2 separate regions of the Homo sapiens genome follow, and region 2 is linked to region 1. Evidence: fine-mapped expression QTL. A gene starts in region 1. The other region holds a variant in brackets. All regions are shown on one strand. Distances are from middle to middle. Region 1 holds the start of SRMS (src-related kinase lacking C-terminal regulatory tyrosine and N-terminal myristylation sites). Region 2 holds the start of PPDPF (pancreatic progenitor cell differentiation and proliferation factor).

Evidence for each region. PIP is the estimated chance that this variant, and not a neighbour inherited with it, causes the effect.
Region 2: its variant is fine-mapped to the expression of SRMS in tibial nerve (GTEx, PIP above 0.99). The same link has a PIP of 0.9 or more in cerebellum.

Annotation. Positions count from the first base shown.
Region 1 is chr20:63,543,682-63,553,259 of GRCh38, reverse strand. SRMS (src-related kinase lacking C-terminal regulatory tyrosine and N-terminal myristylation sites) reads left to right here and starts at 5,511. Exons shown (of 8, transcript NM_080823.4): 1 at 5,511-6,152; 2 at 8,912-9,033. The coding sequence starts at 5,797. It also overlaps a transcript of FNDC11 not described here. RefSeq lists enhancers at 200-289, 5,797-6,438, 8,611-9,164.
Region 2 is chr20:63,517,271-63,528,851 of GRCh38, reverse strand. PPDPF (pancreatic progenitor cell differentiation and proliferation factor) reads right to left here and starts at 8,087. Exons shown (of 4, transcript NM_024299.4): 1 at 7,958-8,087; 2 at 7,489-7,568; 3 at 7,263-7,340; 4 at 6,646-7,184. The coding sequence starts at 7,543. The coding sequence ends at 6,973. It overlaps LOC102723814 (a long non-coding RNA gene), which reads left to right and starts at 8,179. Exons shown (of 2, transcript XR_430332.4): 1 at 8,179-10,380; 2 at 10,967-11,581. It overlaps PTK6 (protein tyrosine kinase 6), which reads left to right. Exons shown (of 8, transcript NM_005975.4): 8 at 1-851. RefSeq lists silencers at 7,635-7,834, 7,945-8,494, 8,555-8,804 and enhancers at 8,077-8,953, 8,954-9,830, 9,831-10,708. The variant CT/T (reference allele first, on the strand shown) is at 6,687.

The DNA of each region.
Region 1 (9,578 bases):
GCCCCGCAGGGGAGCTCTGAGGCCATCTGGTCCCGTCTGTATCTGTTCAGTTGGGCTCAGGGCCTCTGGGATCCCCCCGTTCCCCCACAGCACACCCCAGCTAGCTGGGGGTCTCCTGGGGTCACAATCTTAGACACCCCAAGGTGCCCCTCCTTCACCTTCAGGAAGATGCTGGAGGAAGACACCCTTTCCATCCTCCTCATCTCCACCCCCACGGAGGTCAGTGCTGGGGCCTCTTCCAGGATGGGCGTCTTTGAGCCCCTACCAGGCTGTTCTGTAACTTGAGCCTCCCCCCTCCTCCCGGTGACCCCACCCTGGAAGAGCTTTCCCTTGGTGCATGGAGGCCCCAGGGGTTAGGCCTGGCAGGAAGTGGGTGGATGTGGGTGGTTTTTTTTTTGAGATAGCGTCTTGCTCTGTCACCCATGCGGCAGTCTTCACCCCCGGGGCTCAAGTGATCCTCCCACCTGGGTCTTTCTGATCCTTCCGGATTACAGGTGTGAGCCTTGCACCCAGTCCTGTTGGGTGCTGTTTCTGCCCTGCCCTCCCTGCCTGGGCTGGAACTCAATAAATGCCAGCTATTGTTATTGTTATTTAGGGCTCCAGGGGACAAAGCCGGGGTTGTTTGGAGAAGGGGGTGCTGTCTGACGCGGAGGGTTGGGAAGCAGTAGGAGTTAGACCCCTTACCCCCGGCCCTGCAGCCCACTGACGGAGAAGCGGGGTGGGGGCAGAGCAGCCTCCCCTTCTCTTTTGGGGCCAGGCAGGTCCTGGATGTCTCCCCTCTCCTGGGCTCCACCCTACCCCCTTTCTTTCAATTTCTGATTTCTAATCTAATTTTTTAAAGTTAAACTTTTGGCCAGGCTCGGTGGCGCAGGCCCATAACCTCAGCACTTTGAGAGGCCAAGGTGAGAGGATCCCTTGAGGCCAGAAGTTTGAGACCAGCCTCGGCAACACAGGGAGACCCCTGTCTCTACAAATAATTTGAAAAATTAGCTGGGTGTGGTGGTGTGCACCTGTGGTCTCAGCTACTTGGAAAGCTGAGGCCGGAGGATCACCTGAGCCTGGGAGGATGAGGCTGCAGTGAGCCAAGATGGTGCCACTGCACTCCAGCCTGGGTGACAGAGGGAGACCCTGTGTCTCTAAAAAGAATAATAATGGCTGGGCGCAGTGGCTCACGCCTATAATCCCAGCACTTCGGGAGGCTGAGGCAAGCAGATCACCTGAGGTCAGGAGTTCAAGACCAGCCTGGCCAACATAGTAAGACCCAGTCTCTACTAACAATACAAAAATTAGCTGGACGTGATCGAGACCATGGTGAAACCCCGTCTCTACTAAAAATACAAAACACTAGCTGGGAGTGGTGGCAGGCGCCTGTAGTCCCAGCTACTCGGGAGACTGAGGCAGGAGAATGGCGTGAACCTGGAAGGTGGAGCTTGCAGTGAGCCGAGATCACGCCACTGCACTCCAGCCTGGGCGACAGAGCGAGACTCTGTCTCAAAAAAAAAAAAAAAATTAGCTGGACGTGGTGGTGGGCGCCTGTAGTCCCAGCTACTCAGGAGGCTGAGGCAGGAGAATCGCTTGAACCCAGGAGGTGGAGGTTGCAGTGAGCCGAGATTGTGCCACTGCACTCCAGCCTGGGTGCAATAAGACAGAGGCCTGTCTCGAAAATAATAATAATAATAATAAAGTTAAACTTTTACTTTTAAGATAAGTATAGATTCATCTGCAGTTGTAAGAAGTAACACAGAGGTCCCGTTACCCTCTATCCAGCATCCCCAGTGGTAGCATCTTGCAGGACTGCAGTGCAGAATCACGCCAGGACCTTGACGTCGATACAGACGCAAGGCAGTGCCACCCCCACGGGACCCTGACATGTTCTTTACAGCCACGCTGCTCCCTCCCACCTCTCCCTAGCCCTGCAACCACTCATCTCTCCGGCTCTGTCTGGTCATTTCAAGAATGTCCTATCAGTGCAGGCTTTCAGTATGCAGCCTTGGGACTGGCTTCTTGCGCTCAGCATAGTCCCCTCTGTGCAGGGTCAACAGTCACTCCTGTTCACTGCTGGGCACCAGGGGCCAGTTTGTGCTCAGTCTTGCTCAACCCTGTTTGTGGCCACCAGGGCACGGGCAGTGAACACTTTGGATCTGTTGTCCCTGGTGGGGACAAGCTCTCTTCCCTGGGCCCTGAGGATGGTGAAGCCTGGGGGTAGTGGGGCCAGTCTTGGGGGAGAGAATGCACGCTGACCACTGAGACCCTCAGAGCTGTGCCCTCCAGACACATAAACCCGGATGGGGGGTGGCCTGATGTGGCAGAGCTCCTGCCACAAGCCTCCATCTGAACACCAGGAAGGGCCCTGCACCCCATCCCCCTGGTCTGTGTCCTCACTGCCATTGTAAGCTCAGTGCTCTTACAGATGGGGAAACTGAGGCACAGGGAGGTTCAGCACTGTATGCCCAAGGTCATGTGGACAGTGAGTCTGACAGCAGGATTCCAGCCCTGGTCATTTTTATTTTTTTGAGATGGAGTCTTGCTCAGCCGCCCAGGCTGGAGTACGGTGGCGCGACGATCTCAGCTCACTGCAACCACTGTCTCCCAGATTCAAGTGATTCTCCCGTCTCAGCCTCCCGAGTAGCTGGGATTACAGGTGCCCGCCATCATGCCTGACTAACTTTTGTATTTTAGTGGAGACGGGGTTTCACCATGTTGCCCAGGCTGGTCTTGAACTCCTGACCTCAGGTGATGCACCCGCCTTGGCCTCCCAAAGTGCTGGGATTACTGGTGTCAGCCACCGTGCCTAGCCTTTTCTTTTTTTAAAAAAATAGAGATGGGGGTCTCACTATGTTGCCCAGGCTGGTCTTGAACCCTTGGGCTTAAGCGATCCTCCTGCTTGGCCTCCCCAGATGCTGGTATTACAGGAGTGAGCCGCCTCACCCGGCCAAGCCCCAGACTCCTGACCCCGTCCAGACTGATCCTGTACCCAGGCCCCTTTCCTCACTCCCCTCTGTGCCACCCACCCGGTTAGGGCTGAGGGAGGAGGTGAGGTCATGTGGGGGGGGCACAGCAGGCAGGGAAGGGGCTGCTGACACCGACACCTGGCAGGGGCCCTATGCTGGGCTGTGTTGCGCCTGGTGGGTGAGGTGAGGAAGGGGTGGACGGGCGGGCACAACTTGGAGGGCAGCGGGACAGGGCAGCTGGGCATGCGGGGCCGGGGATTCTGAGGACCACCGGGGAGGAGCTGGATAAAGCCGGCCTCGGCTGCCTGCCGACCACACTCACCCTGGCATGTGTGCGGTGCAAGGGCAGCAGGTGCAAGGAGGGGGAAGATGGGGCAGACGTGGGGAGCTGATCTGTGGGCAGGTGGGGCGGTGGGGGTGAGACACGCCGGGGCAGAGGCCCAATGGGGCCCTAACCCTGATGGCCAGGCCTGCCTCTGGTTCCAGCTGGGCATGGAATGTGCTGAGTCCTGTGCCATGATCCCGTGGCTCTAAGGGGCAGGGAGTGTCTGGGAGGAATCTGCATTCAGTGCCCTGAACATCTGACCCTGGTGTGGTGGGCACAGGAGCTTTCCATGGCCTGAGGAGGCCTCCCTGGGGCTCTGCGGCCTTGGCGTTCTAGCGGGGAAGAGTCACGTCCTAGGGAGGATTTGGGAGAGCTGGTAGCCACACCTGTAGTCCCAGCACTTTGGGAGGCAGGAGGATCGCTTGAGGCCAAGAGTTCAAAACCGGCCTGGGCAACATAGTGAGAGCCCATCTCTACAAATAATAAAAAATTTATCTGGGCATGGTGGCGCACACCTGTAGTCCGGCAGGAGGACGGCTTGAGCCCAGGAGATCGAGGCTGCCACTGCACTCCAGCCTGGGCGACAGAGTGAGACCCTGTTTCCAAAAAAAAAGTAAAGAAAAGAAATGGTGGGCAAAAGCCTCACCTGCACGTGAGGAGACGGCGGTGGGTGTGGGGAGGAGACGGCGGCGGGGGGAGTGGAGGGGAGGAGACGGCGGGGGTGGGTTGTGGGGAGGAGACGGCGTCGGGGGCGGGAGGAGACGGGCAGCGGGTGGGGGGAGGAGAGGGCGGCGGGGGCGGGAGGAGAGGGCGGCGGGGGGAAGCGCGGGAGGAGAAGGCGCTGGGGCCCCTCGAAGGCCACCCCCAATGTAGTATTTACAATTCTCCACATTTCTCAACACCCCCCACCACCCCCAGCAGGGCACCTCTCTGGTGCAGAGCCTGCCCTGAGCCTGGCGATGTCCAGTCTCCCAGGGCCCCTGCTGGCTCCAGGCTATCAGCCCGGACACAGCTTGGCTGCTGGGGTGCCCTGAGAGCCAGGCCACGGGTGTCACTGCCACCCCACAATGCACACACCAGTCCCCAGACGTGAGGTTTCTGAGAAGCCCATCTGTGACTCCAGGGCAGGCAGGTGCGAGGGGCTTGTCATTGGCTGGACACTGGTCACGCCTATTGGAGGGATGCATTCAGCCACACGCATGAAGTGGGGGCATGGATGCGTGTGAGATGTGGGAAAGGGGCGTGAGGCTCCCTGAAGGCCACCCAGGTGCGGAAGGGGCTGCTGGGGGAGGCCGGCAGGAGGAGTGAGAGACTGCAGATGGCCTCACCCCACCCCCGTGCCTCAGGACCCAGAGGGGAGGTGGGAGGAGTGAGAGACTGCAGATGGCCCCCACCCCACCCCACTCAGGACCCGGAGGGGATGTGGGAGGAGAGAGAGACTGCAGATGGCCACCACCCCATCCTCCTGCCTCAGGACCCTGTACCGTGCTGCTGGGTTTTGCTGGGATTTGCTCCCCCAGTCCTGCCCCGATCTGGGGACCTACCTGAGCGGGCAGAGTTTGCTTCAGCATGCGGGGGCTTGGCGCTGTCCAGGGAGAGGGTGGGAGGTCCCCAGCCAGGGACTCACCCGCCGCCCCTTCTCCGTGTGCTCATCCCCCTGAACTGGGGCCAGGCGTCCGCAGCCTCCACTTCCCCGCAGTGGCCTTTGGGTATGGCCTGGGCATTGACTGACTCAGAAGCCGGTCATCGGGCAGCATGGGGCATCTGGGTGCCTGGCCTGCGGCCGAGCTCCCTGCAATCAGCATCTCGTTTTACTGCATGAAAGCCGGGGTGCTGAGAGCCCCCTCACTCGCCTGTCCTCAGAATTTACTGCAGAGGCCGGAGGCTCGGCACCTGGTGCAGGGTTAATGATGTTAAAATATCTGGCCAACACTTAAATAAGCAGGCAATTTTTCACCTGAGTGCAGCTCAGGCTTGGCAACCACTGCAGGTGCTGAACAGCAGCGCTTCTCCGTGGAACCCCCACTTCTCCGTGGGCACGGGCGGCTGTTGGACTGTGGTGCCCTTGGGCATGGGCCAGGCCTGACTGGGCAGAGCCATTCCGCCTGCCTGGGCCTTGCAGAGGGCGGGAGAGAGGCTGGCCCTGCCCACCCCGCCCTCCTCGGGCCCCTCCTGGAGCCCGCCCCCGCCCCAGCCCAAGCTGCCCTCTGCCGTCGGGTTGGGGAGGGGACGGTGCACTCCAGACGCCAAGGAGGTCGAGGACAGGAGGTGCTGTCGGTGTGCCTGAGGCAGGGGGTCCGCCCTGCGCCCCACCCAGCCCCAACGCCAGCCCGGACGCCGGTGGGAACCGTGTGCCTCCTGGATCCAGGGGACCTCTGAGTGACCGCAGGGCCGGGGTCCCCTGTCACCCCACGGCCAGGGCAGGGAGCGCTGGACACCGGGTCCCACCGGCCCTGCCAGTTCCTCTTCCGGGCTCGCGGGCTCCCATGGCCCTCGGGCCCAGCGTGGTGACCCCGGGGGATGGAGCCGTTCCTCAGGAGGCGGCTGGCCTTCCTGTCCTTCTTCTGGGACAAGATCTGGCCGGCGGGCGGCGAGCCGGACCATGGCACCCCCGGGTCCCTGGACCCCAACACTGACCCAGTGCCCACGCTCCCCGCCGAGCCTTGCAGCCCCTTCCCTCAGCTCTTCCTTGCGCTCTATGACTTCACGGCGCGGTGTGGCGGGGAGCTGAGTGTCCGCCGCGGGGACAGGCTCTGTGCCCTCGAAGAGGGGGGCGGCTACATCTTCGCACGCAGGCTTTCGGGCCAGCCCAGCGCCGGGCTCGTGCCCATCACCCACGTGGCCAAGGCTTCTCCTGAGACGCTCTCAGACCAACCGTGAGTACCTCGGCCTCGGAGTCAGAGCCTGCCTCGCCCCCAGCTGGGGAGTCCAGAACAACGGCAGGATTTTGAGTTGGAAATCGCATGTCCGTGGCTATCTGTTCATTCATTCGTTCATCCACGCATTCATTCAGGGACAGCTGATGGGCCCCGGGCCGGCAGGTGTGGTAGGAAAACAGCAGTGTCCGCTGTGGGCTGCCGAGAGGGAGAGGAGGCTCCGGCAGGCGTGGTCAGGTCCTGTGGGGGGGAGCATCAGCTGCACCAGCTGGACACCCAGCAGGCGGTTCCTCCAGGACCCTGCCTGGCTGGCCAGGCCCTCCCGCCCTCACACAGGGAGTCCAGTGTTCATGGATCGGTCACTGCTTGGAGGGCAGGGGCTGGGGGCTGGGAGGCACCAGATGACAGGAGCTCCAGGAGCTCTGGGTGACGGCAGGTGAGCAGGGGCTGGGGGCTGGGGGCTGAGACAGGGGCCCATGCTCCAGGAACTCTGGGTGAGGGCAGGTGAGCAGGGGCTGGGGGCTGAGACGGGCCCACGCTCCAGGAGCTCTGGGTGAAGGCAGGTGAGCAGGGGCTGGGACTGGGGGCTGAGACAGGGGCCCACGCTCCAGGAGCTCTGGGTGAGGGCAGGTGAGCAGGGGTTGCAGAGGCGCCTAGTCCAGATGCCCAGTGCGGCTGCTCTGAGCGGCTGCCTTGGTCTGGCATCCAGCTGGGCAAGGCCTGAGCCCTGGAGACCTTCGGGGTCAGCCTTGCTCAGGGCCACTTCCAGCCTCCTGGGGGCCCTTTGGCACTCACACATCGTCCTGGGGGTTGCATGGGCGGGTGAAGCCGGAGTCACAGGAAGGGGCCTTCTGAGGGGCCCCAGGCCCTCACCCCACACCTGCCCCGCTTGTCCTGAGCAGTGGTTGGGGGGCAAGCAGCCTTTGTGATGGGAAGGGGCTCACAGTCACCCCAGGTGTGGAGGACAGACCCCTTCAGCAGTTCCTGGAGGGCAGGGCTCGTGGTGGAGCAGGGCGGTCCATAGGCAAAGCTAATGACTATTTGCCTAGGCTGGAGATTAAAAGACTAACCACACTCAGGTGTCATTAGCTCCAGACACCTGGCCCCACGCCCCAGGGAGAGACCTCAGACACATCCTCTGCATCTCAGGATCCCACAGGGGCTCACCTCTGACCCCCAAGCCCTGATGTGGGCTTCAGAGGAGGCTGGCGATGTTTTGGGGAAACACCTGTGTCTCATCCCCACACCCCACGGTGCTGGGAGGGACCTGAGTCCCTTTACACGTGAGAGGGTTGCGTCTCCCTGCCAGCAGACCCCAGAAGGCAGGGGCCCTGGCTGCAGGAGGAGCTCCATGGACAGAGCGTCCATGGAGTCAGTGCCTCAGGCCGCTGCCTCTCTGTCCCTGGTCCCACACCTCTTCCTGTCTCCATCTTCATTCCCTTCAACTTAAGCCCAGCCCCACGGCCCTGGTCATGTCAGTTTCTATTCCTGCTGCCCCCATTGCCCCCTAGGTCACCGGGGCAGGGGTGCCAGACTGTGTCCTCCGTCTTGCCCAGTCCCAGTCTGCCAGGATGGCATGGCCGTGCCCCAGCCCCGAATCTTGTGTTGACTCTGAGGCCCACCTCGGGTCCTCTCCTAGTCCCGCTTCCCAGGTGGTTTCAGCCCCACCCTGACACCGGCTCACTCTGCTTCTTCCTCCTGGTGCTTACGGGGTGTGCCCTGGGGCAGGGGAGTGGCAGGCATCCCTCTCCGGGTCCCAGGAAGCTCCAGGAAGTGGGAGGCTCCAGGGTGGGAAGCTGAGTCAGGTGTGGAGTCCCCGCCTTGGACTTCAGCAGCAGAGTTATGCAGACGGGGTGGGGCTGGGAGCATTTCTGTCTTCCTTCCAAGGATGCCTCCGGCTCCCAGGAATGAGTAGATGTGACCTGGTGGGCGGCCCACCTGGACAGGGGAGACCCAGCCGGCCCCTCTCCCGACACCCGGTGTGGGCTCCTCGTGTGTGGGCATCTGAGGAGTGGGCACCTGGGAGCTCCCTGCCACCCTGCCACCGTGTTCAGAGAGGTCTCACCTGCACCTGGCTTTTCCGAGGGGGTGTCTGTGCGAACAGACGCCAGTGGGCTTAGGGCCGTCCTGTACTGGGCACAACTCTCCAGCATGGGATGCAGGATGCTTTGAACGTTCGCACAGCAACCCCCCTGCAGCCGCCCACTGGCTGCCCCTCCTGACCTCCTGCACAGCCTGGCTTAGGCTGCCTCCTCAGGACACAGCTTGCATGGGCCCCCTCCACTAACCAACTGCCTGAGGCAGGTGGGCCGTGCCCAGCCAGGTGATGCCCATGGCCCTGTACAGCCACGACAGCCCAGCAGTGCTTCCGGGCAGCTCACCAGGCCGTCAGCTCCATGTCTGTGCAGGGGCTCAGCGAAGCCGAGTTTGGAGGCCTATGGCCCATGGCCAGGGCTGACTGTTAACCTGTGGCTGGGGCTGGCGGTCACTATGAACAGGGAACTGGAGGTCACGCCCAGCAGGGCTAACGGAGAGCCCACGGCCAACGTGAGGATGCTCAGGGCTGAGCAGGAGGATGAGGCCGGCACTGGGGGCTGAGGCAGTGCAGACCTTGAGCTGGGACTCAAAGTCCACGGGGTGGACCTTCTCCCTGAGGCGGTGGGACAGCCGGGCTCAGCCCTGCCGGCAACACGGAGGAGAGCATGTGGGGCCACTGGCTGAGGGGCCTGCAAGGTGACTGCCGCACCTGCTGTTTGCAGCTGGTACTTTAGCGGGGTCAGTCGGACCCAGGCACAGCAGCTGCTCCTCTCCCCACCCAACGAACCAGGGGCCTTCCTCATCCGGCCCAGCGAGAGCAGCCTCGGGGGCTACTCACTGTCAGGTACCTGGGGCGGCCCCTCCTGCCTCTGTCCCCCACCAGGTCAGTGGCCCTTGACCTTGGGGTGGTTGGTCTCTAGGCAGTGCTGGCTCCTGATTCACACCCGGCGCCACTGAGGGCCCAACAGCAGATATGCTGGTCACCTCCTGCACTTGCTAACTCACCCATTTATTCATTCATTCAGTCATTCACCCACTCATTCATTCAGTCACTCATTCACTTGTTCATTCATTCCTCACTAATTCACTCATTCATTCATTCATCCATTCATCTCATTCACTCGTTCATTCCTCACTCACTAATTCACTCATTCATTCATCCATTCATCCACTCATTCACTCGTTCATTCGTCACTCACTAATTCACTCATTTATTCACTGATTTGTTCACTAGCTTATTCTTTCACTCATTTGCTTATTCGTTCATTCATTCATTCACTTTTCCTTCTTTCCTTCCTTATTCCTTCATTCATTCACTGACTCATGGACTCATTCATTCTACAAGTATTTATTAAGTGCCTACTCTGTGCACACCGTCAGCAGAAAAGC
Region 2 (11,581 bases), 25 kb after region 1:
GGGTGGTTCCGGGCTGGGGGGGCTGCCTCCTTTGCACCTGATTTTGAAGGTGTCTCTTTCATCCATGGTTAAGTCATAAAAAGCTTATTGGTTTTGGTTTTGACTCACCTGAAAGTTTTTTTGGTTTAAAAGAAGAATAGGCGGGGCACGGTGGCTCATGCCTGTAATCCCAGCACTTTGGGAGGCTGAGGCAGGTGGATCACGAGGTCAGGAGATCGACACCATCCTGGCTAACACGGTGAAACCCCGTCTCTACTAAAAAATACAAAAAATTAGCTGGGTGTGGTGGTGGGGGTGGGCGCCTGTAGTCCCAGCTACGTGGGAGGCTGAGGCAGCAGACTGGTGTGAACCCGGGAGGTGGAGCTTGCAGTGAGCCGAGATCGCGCCACTGCACTCCAGCCTGGGCGACAGAGCGAGACTCCATCTCAAAAAAAAAAAAAAAAAAAAGAAAGAAAGAAAAATAATTTTGGGAGTTTCTGGAAAGGTACTAGGATTTCTCAAAAGGATTTGTCTTCTGCCTTGTGAAAGACAGATGTCAGACTAATCAGGCTTATCCGATGTGCTACATGAGATGGAAAGCGTGTGAAATAGTAAGTCACACTAAGTCTTCTGGAGGTTCTATTTACGGGTTTGGTTTTGATATGAATGTTGCAGAAACTCTATAAAATTCCTAGAAATCTGATACGTTATCCTATGATATATATCCTATCTCACATGCTATTCCTAGAAATCTGGTGCAATGTTATCAGTCATAATTTTGGTTATTACATTAAAATGCTGCATGCCACAGAAATAACCAAGTTTCCTTGCCAACCGTGTCACGAATATAATAAACTCTCATCAGATCCTGAGCCATGGCTATCTTAAGTCTTCGGTCATTCACAGTTATTATCTTACTTTGATTTTTTCTGAAAGCTTTGCAATCAGCTAGTCCCAAATTGTTTATTCTTCAAAGAGATTCCTGGGAAGGATTCTGACAGGTGCTCTGGAGCACAGGTTTCTGGTTCAGGTCATAGCCTTGGATTGGGTGCAAATTTCCAGAACTCGAAGGAGGGACCTGGCAGGTCCATGAAAGTTCTGTCCCAGGATCAACCAGAACAAGAATTAATGACATGGGAATGAATGAACTGACGAGGATGTTTACTGTTTAATGACTTTTGTCTGAAGCATTACGGTTCTTTAATATTTTGTTTTCCAGATGTAAGAAAACGTTTTTTGTTTCTGTTTTTGTTTTTGAAGACAGGGTCTTGCTCTGTCACCCAGGCTGGAGCGCAGTGGCGTGACCACAGCTCATTGCAGCCTTGAATTCCCAGGCTCAAGTGATCCTCCCGCCTCAGCCTCCTGAATAGTTGGGACTACAGGAATGCACCACCACACCTGGCTAATTTTAAATTTTTTTTTTTTTAGGAGATTCAGGGTCTTGCTATGTTGCCCAGGCTGGTCTCGAACTCCTGGGCTCTAGCAATCCTCCTGCCTCGGGACTACAGGCCTGAGCTGCTGCGCCCAGCCTGGGCACGAAAGCCGTCTGTACGAGAGTTGCTGGGGAAATTTCTCTGAAGTCTGTATCAAGTGGGGCAGCTTCAGCTTACAGGGCTTTGGGAAAAGAGCAGTTTTAATTTTCAGTGACTCCATGAGGAATGGTGGAAGAAAAAATTGGAAAGAGTGGTTTGGTGAGCTGTAGGCAAATATTGGAGGAAACTGAAGTTCAGGACCCGGTCCGGACCACAGGTGGGCGACAAAACCTCCAGACAGCAAACCGGGCTAGAGTCTAATAGTGGGGGCACGAGTTTTATTTTGAAACATAATTTTTCTCTCTACAGTCAACAAATTTCTTTTTCTTTTTTTTTTTTTGAGATAGAGTTTCGCTCTTATTGCACAGGCTGGAGTGCAATGGCTTGATCTCGGCTCACGGCAACCTCTGCCTCCCGGGTTCAAGTGATTCTCCTGCCTCAGCCTCCCGAGTAGCTGGGATTACAGGCATGCGCCACCACGCCCAGCTAATTTTTGTACTTTCAGTAGAGATGGGGTTTCTTCACGTTGGTCAGGTTGGTCTCGAACTCCCGACCTCAGGTGATCCACCCACCTCGGCCTCCCAAAATGCTGGGATTACAGGTGTGAGCCACCGCACCCAGCCAACAAATTTCCTTCTTCCTTTTTTTTTTTGAGATGGAGTCTCGCTCTGTCGCCCAGGCTGGAGTGCAATGGCGCAATATTGGCTCACTGCAACCTCTGCCTCTCGGGTTCAAGTGATTCTCCTGCCTCAGCCTCCCAAGTCTCTGGGATTACAGGTGCCTGCTACCACGCCCGACTAATTTTTGTATTTTTAGTAGAGATAGGGTTTTGCCATGTTGGCCAGGCTGGTCTCGAACTCCTGACCTCAGGTGATCCGCCCACCTCGGCTTCCCAAAGTGCTGGGATTACAGGTGTGAGCCACCGTGACCGGCTGCAAATTAACGCATTTCTATCAAAGATAATAAAAGTAGGATTGTTTTCAAATTAACACATTTCTATCAAAGATAATAAAAGATTGATTTGATTGCAGAGTAAGTTTGGCCTCATTAAACCTGGTGTGGTTATTTATGTAAGTGGAACAAGAATAGTGATTAACCACATAGGTTCTTCCTCATTTTTGTTTTCCAACAGGGCCTCACCCTGTCACCGAGGCTGGAGTGCAGTGGTACCATCATGGTTCACTGCTGCCTTGACCTCCTGGGCTCAAGCCACCTTCCAGCCCCACCCTCCAGAGTAGCTGGGACGACAGGCATGTGACACCACACCTGGCTAATTTATTTGTATTTTAGTAGAGAGGGAGCCCCACTATGTTGCCCAGGCCAGTCCTGAACTCCTGGGCTCAAGCAAACCTCCCATCTCAGGCTCCCAAAGTGCTGGGATTATAGGTACACCTGGACACGTGGGCTCTTTTAAAATTTGCTTTACTGGAACTTTTTTTTTTTTTTTTCCTGAGACGGAGTCTTGCTCTGTCGCCCAGGCTGGAGTGCAGTGGCGCGATCTCGGCTCACTGCAAGCTCCGTCTCCCGGGTTCATGCCATTCTTCTGCCTCAGCCTCCCGCATAGCTGGGACTACAGGCACCCGCCACCATGCCCGGCTAATTTTTTTATTTTTAGTAGAGACGGGGTTTCACCGTGTTAGCCAGGATGGTCTCGATCCCCTGACCTCGTGATCTGCCCACCGTGGCCTCCCAAAGTGCTGGGATTACAGGTGTGAGCCACTGTGCCTGGCCTACTGGAACTTTTTATAAGGAATCTGAGATTGGGCTTTTAAAAGCCTCTTGAGGCTAGGAAGCCATCGCAAAGACTTGCCATCAGACTTTGCCTGCAATAAGTACAGATTTAGGGGAATTCCTCTCTTCTTGAGGTCCCTAAGGTATCTTAAGATTCTGGGACCTGCCAGGAATTGACATTCTTTACTCATCTGTAAGGGAACCACGTATGTGAGGTACCAGGCCAGCTTTTTTCCAAGGGGCTTTATTGGACCATGCAGTCAACCCTAACTCCTTTAGTCGTATCTGAAAATAGGACATTCCAGTCAAAGCCTTGGTAATATAACCAATGTTTTCAATTGTGCCCTATTACAAGAACAGATTCTCATTGAACTTATGCAAACCCACTAACAGTTTCTGAATTCTGGGATTAGGGAGGAAGAAAAAGATAAATATTTCACCGTTGAGGCCATTCTAACCTCCCTGCCTTTCTTCCCTGAAGCAGGCCATAAAACCCAGGAAGGCCACTCCCAGACCCTCTCCCTGCAGACCCTCACGTGGTGTCCCGCCCCCTAACCAGAGGAAAGGGATGTCAGAGTCAAGTCGGGCCTTGATCACACCCTTCCATCCTCCGCTCACTCCTGCTCCGCTGTGAAATAGACCATTTCTTTGGTCTTTGTTTTGAAGGGGCCCACATCACATGGAACTCGCATTAAATGTTTGTATGCTTTTTCTTTTTTTTTTTTAAGACAGAGTCTTGCTCTCTGACGCCCAGGCTGGAGTGCAGTAGCGCAATCTTGGCTCACCGCAGCCTCCGCCTCCCGGGCTCAGGGGATCCTCCCATCTCAGCCTCCCCAGTAGCTGGGACTCCAGGCATGCACCGCCACGTCTGGCTAATTTTTTTGTTTTTGATAGAAACAGGGTTTTGCCGTGTTGGTTGCCATGTTGACCAAGCTGGACTTGAAGTCCCGGCTTCTAGTGATCCACCTGCCTCAGCCTCCCAAAGTGTTGGGAATATAGGCGTGAGCCACTGCGCCCAGTTTAATCTGTCTTTTGTTCAAGGGTCTGTTGGATACAGTGAGTTCTAGATTTCTCTTAGAGGACTCAGCATGTATGTTCAGTTCTTTGTTCTCCATTTAACTCGTGCATAGTTTCAGTAAACAACCTTTTCCACCAGTTTTAATCAATAGTTCACATCTGTTCCCCTGGTCACCTGCTCCGTCCTGACTCATCCTGGTACCTGTTTTTTTTTTTTTTTTTTTTTGAGATGGAGTCTCGCTCTGTTGCCCAGGCTGGAGTGCAGTGGTGCGATGTCCGCTCACTGCAAGCTCCGCCCCCCGGGTTCCTGCCATTCTCCTGCCTCAGCCTCCCGAGTAGCTGGGACTACAGGTGCCCGCCACCACGCCTGGCTAATTTTTTTTGTATTTTTAGTAGAGACGGGGTTTCACCACGTTTGCCAAGATGGTCTCGATCTCCTGACCTCATGATCCACCCGCCTCGGCCTCCCAAAGTGCTGGGATTACAGGCGTGAGCCATCGCACCCGGCCCCTGGTCACCTGCTCTGACCTAAGTCATCTTTAGCTACCTGTTCCTGTCCTTCCTGCCAAACTACTCACCCCACCACTCTGGGTCACACCCCTGCTCTCTTTAAAATAGTCAATCAGAATTACCTTAGAGTGTGCAGTCCAACCCCACCCAACAGGGGAATGACACAGCCGTAGAGGCTACCTGTGTCAGGAATAAGAACCCCTTCCCCTCCCTTGTCCAGGTGCGCTCTCACCATTGCTCCATCCGCGAGTCGCACCCTTCTATAGAAGTAAAAATTGCCTTGCTGAGAAAATTAATGTTTGAGTGCTATTTCTTTGTGGCACCGAGGAAGCATTTTGTTTCTAACAGGTCTCAGCCATGAAGCTTGTGATGGGTGAGGAAAAGATATGACTTCTCCCCCTACAGAGAATCTGATGAGGGTGCAGCTCCCAGGAACAGGCCATGGACACCCCCAGGGTTGTGAGGTCCTCCAGTCAAGGGGCCCCCTGACCCGAGGCAGGGGACGATGCCGCGGGCAGCCTGTGGCTCGGCTGCTCCCTACTCCCAGCTGCCCCTTCCAACAAGACACCAGCTCCCGGGCAGTGCCCCTCCCCCGCTGACTCCAAAAGCCAGGACAGCTTCTTTCCAAGCAGGGTGGACCCACCCTTGGTCCTGACCCCAAGCCCTCCAGCTCAGCCAAGGGCGGAGCCCCCCCAGGCCATGTGTGGTGGGGACCTGAGCGTGGCTGGGCTCTCCCTTCAACACCAACTCCTGCTACCCTCACAGCTGTGTGTACATGGAGGAGGGTCTCTGTGGGCTTCATCTGGACACTGCAAAAGGCTGCAGGGGGCTCAACTGCCATTAGGAGCAGCCTCCCACTCCTGGGTCCATCGGAGGCTCCCCCACCCAGCCTCAGCACTGACCACCGGCTTGGATGGCTGGGTGAGGCTGCCTCCACCCTGTGGACAGGACAAAGGCTCAGCCATCAGAGGCCACAAGCCAGATGCCTTCCCACCAGCTTCCCACCAACTAGTACAGCTATTTATAGTGCAGTGGAACAGGGTACCAGGCAGGGAGCACCCACTGATCCCCACCCCTCCCCAGAGTCCCTCCCCCACCACTGAACCCCACCCTTTCCCACCCCACGGAGGCCCCTCCTCTCACCATGTCCCTGGCCACACATCAAGTCTCCAGCTATCTCACTGACTCCCACCTGCTCACTAAGCTGCCTCTCAACAGAACTGAGTCAATCCCTGTAGGCTCCTGGCAGAGGTGTGGGGACACCACCCACCTTGGTTATGAAGGAGTCTACTAAGCTCACAGCCCATGCACTCCTGTGTGTGGACCCCCATCCCTGCCAGCCTGCAGCACTCCCGGACTCCAACACTCCATGCCTATACCAGGCCAGAATGATGCAGCCACCCTCACTTTAAGCTGGGCTGCCTGTGGCAGGAAGACCCCTCCACGGTGCCTGCAGCCCCTACCCCTCAGCCTGTCTTGGGGCAACACCCCTATGGGAGGCCCTTGGGAGACACCTACCAGCAGGAACCAGGTCCCTCCAGAGTGAGGGCTTCCCAGCTCACAGCCAGAGGCTACTCCCCGCCCCGCAGGCCCTCGGGTAAGGGGCCTGAATCCCTCAGAGGACCAGCCCTCCCTGCTCCCTTTCCCCCCGCTAAAGGTGGCACGGGGGCCCACCTCAGTGGCTGCCCTGGGTCCTGCTTGTCCAGCTCCAGGACTGCCTGCTGTCCAAGGCTCTCCAGAAGCAGCAGTGAACCCCACCCTTATCAGCCCCAGCAACAGCCTCACAGCGTGAGGAGGCCCAGAAAGGCCTGGGAGCAGGGCCAGCCCCCACAAGGCAGTGAGGTCGGGAGGGATTCAGCCATTTCTCACACTCAAATGGAACCTCGGGCCACACAGCTCAGGCACACACCATCGGGG[CT/T]ACTGGCTGCTTGGAGTTTATTTTCCGCTTGGTGCCAGGTGCACAGTTCCAGGTGTCAGGAAAGCTAGCGAGTGCTGGGGCCGGGCGGTAGAGAGCGGGGCTCTCACTGGTTTTTGGTGTCTGCTGTGTTGATGCGAAGGTCTGCTTGCTGCAGCCGCCTAGTTTACAGGGTGGGGGGTGGGAGGTGGGGAGGGGGGCGAGGGATGCGGAGTGGGGAGAGGGGCGGGGAGGGGCTCTGGTGGACTAGCGCCTCCGCAGGCCTGGGGCTGGTGGTAACCGCTCAGGTCAGGACGGGGGCCCAGCGCTGGCTGTGCTGGACTGACCGCCGGGCTGCTTCCTCGGGGCGTCCCGAGCCAGGCCACAGGCGGTCATGCTGCTGGAGGCCTGGGGAGGTTCCGAGTGCTCTGCGGACTCCAACACCGTGGCCATGAACGGGAGGGTGGACTTCCCGAAAAAGAAGCTGGCCCACCAATGACCCGGGTCAGCCTTGGGGAGACCTGAGAGAAGCGAAGTGGGGTCTTGATGCTGCCAGCTCCTGGAGGAGCGGGGGGAGAAAGGGGCGATCCTGCACTCACCTGGGGGGTGGGGAATGGCTTCCCCGGGGCACTCGGTACTGCTGCAGGAGCTGTTGCTGGAAGTGGAACCCAGGCGGCCTGGAGAGGAGAGGTCCCGTCAGCAACGCGGGGCGCGGAGCCCCCCAGCCCACCGGCCTTCAGGCCGAGCGCTGGTTCCGCAGCCTGCACGGGGCCGGCACTGGCGCCAGCAGAGCATCCGCGTGGATGGGGGGCAGGGGCTACTCACGCCGGTAGTAGTCGTGGGTGGCCACGAGCGAGCCGCTGGAGGGGATGGCCGCCATGCTTTAGCTTGCTGGCTGGTGGGATCTGCGCATGGGGGTGGAGGAGCCCCTCGGGTCAGCGGCCTTCCGTCATGAAGGGCGCTCCCCAGCGGGTGGAGCCGCCGCGCTGGGTTATTTACCGAGGCGGGGCTCCCCAGCTCCCGGCACCGCCTTCGCCGCGCGGGGCGCGGGCGGCTCCAACCAGCCCAAACCGGCCGAGCGGGTGGAACAAAGGCGCTTTGTGCGCGGGGCCCCGGCCCAGACGTCGGGAACCTGGTGGGCGCCGTCCCAACCCGCCCGACCCGAGAGGAGCCCGCCGGGGACCCCGAGCCCAGCGCTCGCCAGGCGGAGAGGAGAGGAGCCCCCGGCCCAGCCCCGCCCCTCGCCCCCCGCCCCTCGGGCCTGCTCGTCCCACCCGCGCGCGGCGCCCCTCACCTGGGCGGCGACCCCTCGCGGGCCTCGGCGCACGATCACGGGTGGCGGGGACGGGGGCGCTAGGCCACGGAGCCCATTTGCAGAGAAGACCGCGGGAAGCCGCGCCACGACAGAGAGGCGCGCGCGGGGTGCGCACGCGCGGACGCGCCCACTTATATGCGCGGGGGCCGCGGCGCGTCACGGAGGGCGGGGCGCACAGGCTCCTCCCCGGGCCCCACCCGGCCCCGCCCCTTTCCTGGCCCCGGCGAGGCCGCGCCCCCAGCTTCCACCTCGGTGCGACTCTCGCCGTCTGGCTTGGGCTGAGCCCAGCCCTGCGGCGTTCGTCTTGGGGCGGCCCGGCCGGTCCTGGGTCTGCAGGGGTTAAAAGGCCCCGCGCCCGGGTCCGGGAGCCCAGCCCCCGCCCCTCTCCCGGGCCCAGGCCCCCGTCTCGGACGCGTCTCGGAGCCCCGCCTGGTCCAGCCCGCCCGTCCTCTTCAGCCCTTGTGGAGGCGACGGGGGCGCCGGGCGGGCCAAAAAGTGCTACGTGCGCGGAGCCCTCCGGCCCGGCCTCCAGGGACTTCGCAGCCAGAGGAACCTGGATCTCTCCCGAGTCCCCCTCACAGCTCTGGCAGCTCCGGAACCTGCACCCCGGTTGCCCAGCCCCAGGACGCGCCTGCTGCCCGCAGGGGGCGGTGAAAGGGTGGGCGGATGGCGGGGCAGTGGGAGGCGGGGCCCAGTCGGAGAGCGGGGCGGATTTGGGCGGGTGAGGTGAGTCTCCAGTCGCCGGAGGCAGAGGCTGGGCCCCACTGCTCGGAGACCCCATGTTTGGGGAGCCCAGAGCGTTCCCGGCAGGGCCCTGGGGCCCGGGGGACGGCCCGCCATGCCAATCAGGAGGGGGCGCGTTTTCCCTTCCCAGGCAGAAAGGCGTCCTCCCTCTCCTCCTCCCCCCAGCGCAGAATCCTCCCCACACCTCCCTCGGCCCCGCAGGGGAAATCGGCCTGCCCCTACGGAAATCCCGTTTCTTTATACACCCGGTCCTGGCTGGGCGGTGTCTTCCCCGTGGAAGAGAGGGTCCGGGAGGTCCGTGGGGCGGAACAGTCCGAGGGCTTCGGGAGTCAGCCCGGGTGGATTTGTTTCGTGGCTCTCGTTGCTGGCTGGGACGGCCGTGTGCCCGTGTTGTTCCGGAGATCGAGGCCAACGGATGCCGTACTCTGTCCTCGCCGGGTGCTCAGTGAGGACCCACAGCTGGGCAGGGACCCTGGGAGGCCCCTGAGCAAGACTTGGAGGGACGCCCTTGTGCCCCCTGAGCACGTGGGGAAGGCGCTGTCCTGGGCCCTGCACCGCTCTGTGTGTTCATTGCACGAGTGTGGTAAGCACCTACTATGTGCACATGGCCGAGCCAAGCGCAGGGAACGGTAAACCAAGGGAGAACGGCCTTCCCGTGGGGAGCAGTGCAGAGGCTGGCGGGGGCGGGTGGTGGGGAGAGCTCAGGTTTCAGCTGAGGTCTAAGGACGGAGGGCAGGGAACCGCCTGAGCCCCACCTGGGAGGGGGAGCTCGGTGCCGGAGAGCAGTGCCAGGACCTGCGATGGGAGAGGTGTGCAGCCCCGAGGGGTCACTGATGAGGCAGACGGGTCAGTTGGGTTGACACTCAGAGGGTCCTCAGGGGCAGACGCTGAGACGGGGTTTGGGGTTTGGGGTGCAGAGTGAGTACTGGTGATCAGCACCTGGGAAGGGGTGGGGAGGGTGCAGGGCCGGGCAGGGACTGTAGGGGCGGCCTGCGTTGGGCTTGGCTGGCACAGCCTTTGTGGCTTGCTTGGACCCATATGCAGCCGCCCAGGGACGGGAGACCCTGGTGAGGTGTCTGTGGTCCAGGCCCACCCTGAAGGAGCCGTGGGGCCGACTGCCGACCACGCCTGACAGCACGGCCTTCCAGGTCACCCGCTTCCCTCTAGGCTGGCCTGACCCAGCTCACCTCATTCTCAACCTCACCAGTCAACACCGGTCAACATCAGTCACAGAGCGTCTGAAAGGAGGAATTTTCATTTTCCTTTAAAGTGAAAAGGTAAAAACTGCATTTACTAAACCAGGCCGGTGGGGGCTCTGTGAGCCCCTCTGCACAGGAAGCCTCAGAGACGCTGCATGGTGTTCCCGGGGCATCCTGGCCAAGGTGGGAGAACGCAGCCTCCGTGAGGACCCGCGGGATGCCCTCGGGGGCCGCCTCCTGGTTCTCGTCTCCTCTGAAGTGCAGACGACGCTGGCCCACATCCTTGTCGGGCAGAGGGGCTGCCGACTGGCCCCTGGCCATGGCTCTTGCTGGGAGCCGTGTGGCCTGGGCTTGGACCCACATCCACCTCTTGCTGGCTGCCTGCTCTTGCCAGTGGCTGAGCCTGGCTTCTCCCATGACAGTGGCCGCAGACAGAGGGGACCCGTGCCACCAGGCAAGGTGAGCTCAGGGAACGCTAGCTCTCCTCTCCCTTGGCTCTGAGGGGTTCGGCGGTGCCCTTGGTGTGTCTGGGGGCTTTTGGGAAGTCCCAGGTCTGGGCTCTGGGTCAGGAAGCAGGAGCGAGGAGAGACACTGCACCCGAGCCTCCCCGGCTGTAGGAAATGGGGGCAGAAAAGCTAAGCGGACGGAAGATGCATTGTGCGCAAGCTATAGCAGGCCGGTTCAGGCCCGGTTGCTGCTAGGATGTGATCATTGGCAGGGATGAGATTGACGGGGACGGTCAGCTGGAGAGGACAGGGCACAGCTGGACGAGGGCGGGGACGGCCACAGGCTTCCCACAGGGCGGGAGGGAAAGGCTTCCAGTCCCACTTGTAAGGGCTGCCTGCCACCCTGTAGCCACTGTCTCCTCCCTTGTGGACGGGACGATGGTGGCACCTTGTTATGGTTGGGTTAACATACATATGTTAAGAATGCGTTAACCCCAGCGTGTGGGGAGGACTAGATGGGAGAGGCCCCTAGTGCGGAGGCTCACAGCCTTGCTCGGCCCCTGGGAGCTGTCGCCACCTGCACTGTGCTCCTCCCACAGGTGTCTGGGGGCGAGGTGAGAGTTCTGCCAAAGCCGGAGCCAGGGTTGGACCCCCGGAGCTCGTTGGTCGGCCCCTGGAGGGAGAGTGGTGTGTTCACACCACGGCCCTGGTGGCCCAGCTCTGCCCATCTTCATCCCAGGTGGCAGCTGCTGCCCAGCTCTCTGGCCAGTGCCTCTTAGATGGTGTCACCACCTGCAGAAGAAAACAGAAGTGCTGACTAATATTTGATGAAGGCCTGCTATGCCGGCGGCACCTGATGTGGCAGGTGAAGTCCGGGGGGCAGCAGCCAAGGCTGCCTGTTCCTCAGTGTCCCTGCGCGTGAGACGGGCATAGCTAACTCCTGTGGCCACCTTGAGGGTAAGATGCTTCCTGCAGGTGCTTGGACCAGTATCTGGCACGGGGCAGGTGCTCAGCGAAAGTTCCTTATTAATCCCTGTACCTTTCACTGTTGGAAGTAACTCAGGACATTGGCTTGGTGGTTACACAAGCACTGTGGGAGAAGGTGGTGTATCTGTTCACCCTGGGTCCCAGTGGCTGAGGCAGAGCCAGCCATGCAGGAGGCAGGCGTCCAGTATGTATATTGGATGGAAGGTTGAATTGCATAATAAAATATA